Homo sapiens: one gene and its partner. The protein of the gene in region 1 interacts with the protein of each later gene in a biochemical or structural test. Each region holds a gene or a part of one and is shown on either strand. Other genes may lie near its edges.

Region 1 (3,818 bases):
AGCTAGTAGACACATCACTCCAGTCTCTGCCTCCATCCTCACTCAGCACTCTCCCGATTGTATCTCTGCGTCTATGTCCAAATTTCCTTCTTCTTTTAATAACATCAGCCGTTAGCTTTAGGGCCCGCTCTAATCCAATATGACCTCATCTTAACTTGATTTTACCTGCAAAGACCCTATTTCCAAGTATAGCCACAGTGATAGGTACTGGGGTTAGGACTTCAGTATGTCTATTTTGGGGACACAATTCAACCACAACCTACAGCAAAGGGTAGGTGGCCTGACTGAGGTGGGGTGGCCGATTTGATGGTAGATCCAGAAACAGAACTCACTTAGGCCTGATTCTGGAGACTTCCACAGCGTCAGTCTAATGTGCTGAGTGCCCCGCCTGGAGGAAAAATTCGGGCATCCTGCTCCCTGCGTGCTGGTTGAGCTGAGGGCTGCCCCAGGTCAGTGTCGCTTTGTGGCTAGTGTTGGGGGTCCAGACTTGAGGCGCCCTGGGCTGTAGGATGCCCACAGCCTCACCACTCCCATGAACTCCTCCAGCCCCGTTTCACCCCAGGCCACCCTCCCCGCAGCCTCCCCCTGCTCCCTTGCCGTCAGCGCTGCCCATTTCCAGGCTGGCTGCACAGTCTCACAGCCTGCAATGGCCTCTTGCGGTTCGGTGATTTCACAGGGACTTTGAACGTCCACCATTTAGGAAGGGTACTGGTCAGCTGAATCCGGCCTGAAGACCCAAATTCAACCACTTCCTTTTGAGGGAAACTTTCAAGGGAATATATGAAGAGGGTCTTGTTTATCAAACCCTTTCGGGTCAGAGAGATCCTGGCCTGGAACCTTGCGAGTCCCTCAAGCTCTTCCTGGCCCAGTTTCTGCCTGTAAAATGGGACAGCTGTACCTTCCATGGTTCTTGGGGAATGGAGTGAAATTATCTGTAGGGCCTAGCATAGTGCCTGGCACGTAGCAAGCTGCAAGTGATGGTTGCCACGGAGACACCAGCAGCCTTGCCTGGTGGGGCTGGAGTGTTCCCTACCCACGGTCCACCCTGTTCCTCCTTTGTAAGGCAGGACAAGGCAGGGCAGGGCAGCGGGCGGATGGGCATCCTTTCGGAAAAAATTCATAGAGCGCAGAGGGCCTTGGCTGTGGTGTTTGGCACTAACGAGCTTCCCTCTCTCCTAGATGGCGGACTGTGGCGGCCTCCCGCAGATCTCCCAGGTGAGTGCCATGTTGGCTTTTGCATTATACAGCTGTCGCTTCCCCCTGGGTGGAGTGCATGTGCCTCTGTGACACCTGTTCCCTCATTACCTTGCTGTGACATCGGATGACAGTTTGTGGACTGTTGGGAAAAGGTGCTATATAGGAGGACTCTGATTCCCTAGGAACCAACCCCTGTGGAGTAGGTGATACTGCGGTTCACAGAGGTTGGGGGATTTGCCAAGTAGACACACCTTGGTCATCATGGGTCAGAATCTGGGTATGTCTGCCCCAAAGACCACGGGCTTCTGCTGGAGTGAAGGGCCGCAAGGAGCTCCAGCCCAGAGCAGAGGGACATGGAGGAGATTAAGCCAAATTGTGTGTGTGTGCATGCATGTTTCTGTGTGTGCATGTGTACACGTCTGTGTGTGTGCATGTGTACACATGTCTGTGTGCATGTGTAAATGTGTGTGCACATGTACAAATAAACACATTGATCAACGTAATGTGTTTGCTACGTAACTGATCCCTTCAATTTCCCCTCCTATAAAGAATCTCACCAACCTAACAAGTAAACTTTTAATTTGTTGTCTTATAATTTTATATCCTGACAGTTTTGTGTTCCATCTTAAAATGAAATAGAGTTTTTTGTCATCTTTTTTATCCAAAACCTGCCCTGCCTCCTTTCTTCCTCCTTTTTTTCTTTCTCTACTTAAAATGAGAACAGATGTAACCCTGGTCATAATTAAAAGAATTTTCAGAGCTTCAGAGGAGTGCAACGAGCACAGGCTTCGAGGACACCAGCACAGGGGGGAGCAATTCCTGTGTGACACTGTCGTCCTCATGCCGTTGCAGGTTGGGTGTATGTTTACACAGGGTTTTCCCATCCTTGATTAAATTAGGTCCTTGCAATAGTCCTCAGAGGTGGGAAGAGCAAGCATTTTATCCCAGTGTCACAGAAGAGGAAACTGAGGCCAAAAGTTGAGAGAGATTGCCCATGATTACTGGAGCTAAAATTGGGCCCAAGTGTTCTCATTCCCAAGCGTGTATTCTTGGTTCTCTCCACCATCTCGAACACAGGCGTCCCTGTTCCCTGCAGCCCTGACCTGCTTCTCTTGTCTCTTTCTTCCACTGTCACACAAATTCCAGAGGGCAATTTGAGCATAGCCGCTCTTTTAAATGTCATTTGGCTCTTTGTGGAATCCTGGCAGGAGTTAGTGGAGAGCAGGGAGGGGGGTCAGCCCAGCCTCTACCAGTGCCCTCTCACTGCCTCAGGAGAATAGGACCCAGGGCACTGGATAGAACAGTTGGGATTAACTGAAGAACAGATACGCCTTGCACGTATGCCCTTGATATTTGAGCATTCACCTCCAAGTTTACATTAAATGAACTGAGAGAACTGGTAGAACTGGATGTGGTCTCAGCATTCCATACGCATTTCACTTAAAGTAGCCCAGTTAGTTGTTAATTAATTGGTTTGTTTACCCATCCAACGAACCATCCAACCATCATCCATTCATTCTTCTTCATATCCTTTCTTCCTTTTATTTGTCCTTCTTTTGTTCATATTTCTCTTTTTTTCTTCCTTTTGTCCATCAATTCTTTTTTTAATCCATCTTTCCTTCCTTCCTTCCTTCTCTTCCTTTCTTTCTTTTTTCCTTCCTTCTTTCCATCCATCCTTTTCTTTCCACCCATCCATCTATCCATCATCCCTTCTTTCAGCCAGCCTGCTATTGAGGCTGACAGTGATTTGCCTCAAGAACAAGTGTTTTAGGTTTGGAGAGCCCTGGGTTAATGTACAGGACCCACCACTTACTTGTTGTGGGACCCTGAGTGGATTTACCTGTCCAAATCTGTTCAGCTATGAAATGTATCTAAGGTAGCACTGACCTCGTGAGGGGTTGTCAGGAGTAAATGAATGAACGCAGCAAAGCCCCTTGCATTGGGAGTGGCTCATGATGCCGATGCAGTTATGTTCCACTTGCTGGGTTAGACATGTCCCTTTGTGGATGGTAATCTCCTCAGAAACACACAGAAATAGCTGTGATACTCTGCCCTGTATTACAGGTGAGGAAACTGGCTCAGACAGGTCATGTAACTTGTCCAAGTTCCACAGCTGTGGGGTGAATTTCCCATCATTGTCCCATACTCTTACTTTTGTGTTTTGTCCTGTCAACACGTGATGGCTTTTGTCTTGAGCCAAACTCTCAAATGAAGGTGACCACAGGCACAGCCCCCCATGGCCTCGGGTGATCTGGCTCCCCAGCAACTGACTGCATTTTCTCTCCTTGTCTCTCGCAGCCGGCCAAGCTCGCTGAGGCCTTCAAGTACTTCGTGCAGGGCATGGGATACAGTGAGTATGGCATTCCCCGTGTGCAGTGGGTCGGGGCATGTGTCGGAATTGGAAGTGCTCTGTCCTGAGCCAGGTTTGGATGAGCAATTCTGTGTCCCCCTGGCCAGCTTCAGCTTTCTGGGAGGAAACAGTTAGGTGTGTGGAGGGCATGTGGCAGCCTGGAGGATCTAGCCTCTCATTTATCAGTGAGGCTCATTTTTCCTCCTTTGTTGAATAGAAGTTGTTTCACACCAGGGATTTTGGGGGGTTTAGATGAGGACTGTCCCTTTAA
Region 2 (3,818 bases), on another chromosome or scaffold:
AGCATAGAACTGCCTACTCAAGCCTCAGCAATGGCAAACGCCCCTCCCCCCACCAAGCTCCCACATCTTAGGTTGATCTCAGACTGCTGTGCTGGCAGCGAACAAGGCTGTGTGGGCGTGGGACCCGCCGAGTCAGGCATGGGAGGGGATCTTCTGGTCTGCCTGTTGCGAAGAGCATTGGGAAAGTGCAGTATTTGGGCAGGAGTGTATCGCTCCTCCAGGTACAGCCACTCATGCCTTCCCTTGGGTAGGAAAGGGAAATCCCCCAACCCTTTGCACTTCCCAGGTGAGGCAATGCCCCACCCTGCTTCGGCTCGCCCTCCATGGGCTGCACCTGCTGTCCAACCAGTCCCAGTGAGATGAACCAGGTACCTAAGTTGGAAATGCAGAAATCACCTGTGTTCTGCAAAGATCTTCCTGGGAGTTGTAGACCAGAACTGTTCCTATTCAGCCATCTTGGAAGCGACCATGAATGCCATCTTACAAATGAAAGTGTTAATTGGTCACAGACATTCACTGGCTTTTGTGTATATTAATACTTCTGTGAATTTAAATGGATATAAATATTGGTTATAATATTCCACTAGTGCATTTGGATATTCATTTATCTAGCAATTTATATTTCACAGAGAAAAATACTCATAAATATTATATTACTTTTCTTTTATTAGGTTAATTGGAATTCAGTTAGTATTTTAGAAAGGAAATTGTAATGGAAGAATAACAGGAAAAAATAAAAGTCCAATAAGTGAGCCTAAGGACTTATATTGTACTGAGAATTGGTTTTAGATTTGTCAGGGAAGAGAGAAGAAACAGTAGACATTTTTGTGTACGTTGAAGTCACTAAAAGAACAATGTAAAGCTCTTTTAGATCAGATACTAGGTAGCATAATACACAGAATCGATTAAGAATTCAGAAAACAAGATGGTGACTGTGGACTATCCCTAGTGAAGTAGGAGGTGGCTCTTGTGCCTGAATTGAAGAGAGCCGTTGGATTGCTACTGGGGTGAGAGAAGGCAAAAAAGGAAAGAAGAGGTCTGTGAGTGAATAGAGACCCTGGAGCCAGTGATATGCTTATATAATTGGGCCTCAGTTCAGAATGGGTTGGATTATTTAAATTTTTATATCTGTTAACCCCAAATTAACATTCTTTTCTCCACCTGAGCTTTCTCTGAGAGGTCTTCTACTTTGCTAAAAAGAAGATTCAGGGAAGCAAACACTCAAAGCCTTACTTTCCTAAATGCAGAAGGATCTGAAGAGAGAAGTTTTAAACATTTTTATTTGCACATATTTTATTTTCAAGTAAAATAAGGTCTTGAAGAAAGCCCTAAGGCCTTTTAGAATTGGATGGATAAGGTCAGACTCTTATGGGTTCACCTTTTGCTATTTGACCATGGGCAAATTTAACATTCTTCCTATTACCTATAATATGGGAACAGTACTGTCTACCTCATGGGGTTGAAACTAAGCATTGTGTCTGGTCTATAGAATGACTGAATACATGGGAGTTTAAAAAATGACTTATAATTGAAACAAGTAATTGAAGTAATTACATGTAATAAACTAAAAATAATTTGTAGTAAAGAATATAGTTTACTTTGACCAGGCGTGGTGGCTGATGCCTGTAATCCCAGCACTTTGGAGGCCAAGGAGGGCGGATCACCTGAGGTCAGGAGTTCAAGACCAGCCTGGCCAACATGGTGAAACCGCGTCTCTGCTAGAAATACAAAAATTAGCCAGACGTGGTGGCAGGTGCCTGTAATCCTAGCTACTCGGGAGGCTGAGGCAGGAGAATTGATTGAACCCGGCAGACGGAGGTTGCAGTGAGCCGAGATTGTGTGACTGCACAACAGCCTGGGTGACAAGAGTGAGACTCCATCTCAAAAAAAAAAATAAAATAAAAAATAAAGAATATAGTTTACCTTGTATATTTTGGCAGTTTTCTCTATTTAATTCCTTACAGTTCTCGTGAAAAAAAAATTTCCTTTCTTCCTTTAGGAGACAAGGACGGCAGCAAGGTGACAACAGTGGTGGCAACTCCTGGGCAGGGTCCAGACAGGCCACAAGAAGTCAGCTATACAGACACTAAAGTGATTGGAAATGGATCATTTGGTGTGGTATATCAAGCCAAACTTTGTGATTCAGGAGAACTGGTCGCCATCAAGAAAGTATTGCAGGACAAGAGATTTAAGGTAAAATGTCCAGTATTTCATATATTTTGTTGCTGTCGTAATACATATACCATAAATGATTATTTTTTTAGTTGCTTCTTTTTGCTTCAAATTTCTTCTATTGTGCGCATTTTTGTTCAGCTCAACCATTGTAGTGATTTTATTTCTAGTCATGTATTTTGTAGAGATAACATTCACTGAAGATTGCAGTATTACTTTTGTAGTCATTACAAATGACATATGTAATATATGTATTTTTTAATCCTGTGAAAGGTAAGTTAAAATTTCTTAATTTATACTATAAAAAGTGACCTGTCCTCACCGTTGTACTGTGTTGATGTAGACCAGAGGAACACTGCCTGTAGCATATAAGCATTTTATGTATTTGACTATGCTTCCTTTTTTCAAAAAATTTTTTTAATCCATGTTGCAACTTGTGTTAGTCTGTTTTTGCATCTCTATAAAGGAATACCTGATATTGAGTAATTTATAAAGAAAAGAGGTTTAATTGGCTCACAATTCTGCAAACTGTACAGGAAGTGTGGTGCAGACATCTGCTTCTAGTAATTGTCTCAGGAAACTTCTAATCATGGGCAGAAGGTGAAGGGCGAGTAGGTGCATCACATGGCAAGAGCTGAGCGAGAGCATGAAGGGGGAGATCCAGACTTTATTATTATTATTATTGTTATTACTATTTTGTAGAAACGGGGTTTTGCCATGTTGTCCAAGCTAGTCTCAATCTCCTGAGCTCAGGCAAGTCGCCTGTCTCAGCCTCCCAAAGTGCTGGGATTACAGGCGTGAGCCACCATGCCCGTCCCCAGACTCTCTTAAATAACCAGATCTCCTGTGAACTAACTGAGTGGGAACTCACTCATCAACAAGGGGATGGTGCTAACCCCATTCATGAGTGGTTGACCCCCTTGATCCAATACCTCCCACCAGGCTCTACCCCGTCTCTACTAAAAATACAAAAAATTAGCCGGGTATGGTGGCGGGCGCTTGTAGTCCCAGCTACTTGGGAGGCTGAAGTAGGAGAATGGCGTGAACCCGGGAGGCAGAGCTTGTAGTGAGCCGAGATCGCGCCACTGCACTCCAGCTTGGGGGACAGAGTGAGACTCTGTCTCAAAAAAAAAAAAAAAAAAAAAAAAGGAGATTACATTTCAACATGAGGTTTGGAAAGGGATAAACATCCAAACCATATTACAACACTATCCATTTTTCTCGTAACTTTTTTTTTTTTTTTTTGCTATCTTCCCTTTTTTTTCTTGTCCTTCTGCCTTTAGACACTAGCAATCCCAAAATTCAGTTCTCGTCATGTATTTTCATTTTCTGTACCTCATTAGGGGAGCCTATGCATGGAAGCTCAGATGTCATCTCTATGTTGTGGTATAGCAGAGAGAGTCAGAAGACACCGGGTGTAATTAAGCCTCTGTCACTATGCAGCGTTGCTCCCTTTACTACTCTTCCAACCTCTGCAACATTTTAGTGGGAGCCTCCAATGTACCAAGATCTATGGTAAACATGAAGGGATATAACAAGAAGAAGTGATCACTGTTCTGGTATAACACTAGTTATACCACATTCTAGTGTCCATCTGCTGTAAATATCTGGAACATTCTAAAGAATTTTTAAAAATTCAGTTGTTT

The links.
Region 2: the proteins of NDRG1 (region 1) and GSK3B form a complex in vitro, tested with the Homo sapiens proteins (one study listed by BioGRID).

What each region holds. Positions count from the first base shown.
Region 1 is NC_000008.11:133,241,752-133,245,569, reverse strand, and holds part of NDRG1 (protein NDRG1), read left to right. Parts: intron 1-1,179; coding exon 1,180-1,215; intron 1,216-3,495; coding exon 3,496-3,547; intron 3,548-3,818. UniProt on the Homo sapiens protein: Stress-responsive protein involved in hormone responses, cell growth, and differentiation. Acts as a tumor suppressor in many cell types. Necessary but not sufficient for p53/TP53-mediated caspase activation and apoptosis.
Region 2 is NC_000003.12:120,000,421-120,004,238, reverse strand, and holds part of GSK3B (glycogen synthase kinase-3 beta), read left to right. Parts: intron 1-1,999; coding exon 2,000-2,193; intron 2,194-3,818. UniProt on the Homo sapiens protein: Constitutively active protein kinase that acts as a negative regulator in the hormonal control of glucose homeostasis, Wnt signaling and regulation of transcription factors and microtubules, by phosphorylating and inactivating glycogen synthase (GYS1 or GYS2), EIF2B, CTNNB1/beta-catenin, APC, AXIN1, DPYSL2/CRMP2, JUN, NFATC1/NFATC, MAPT/TAU and MACF1.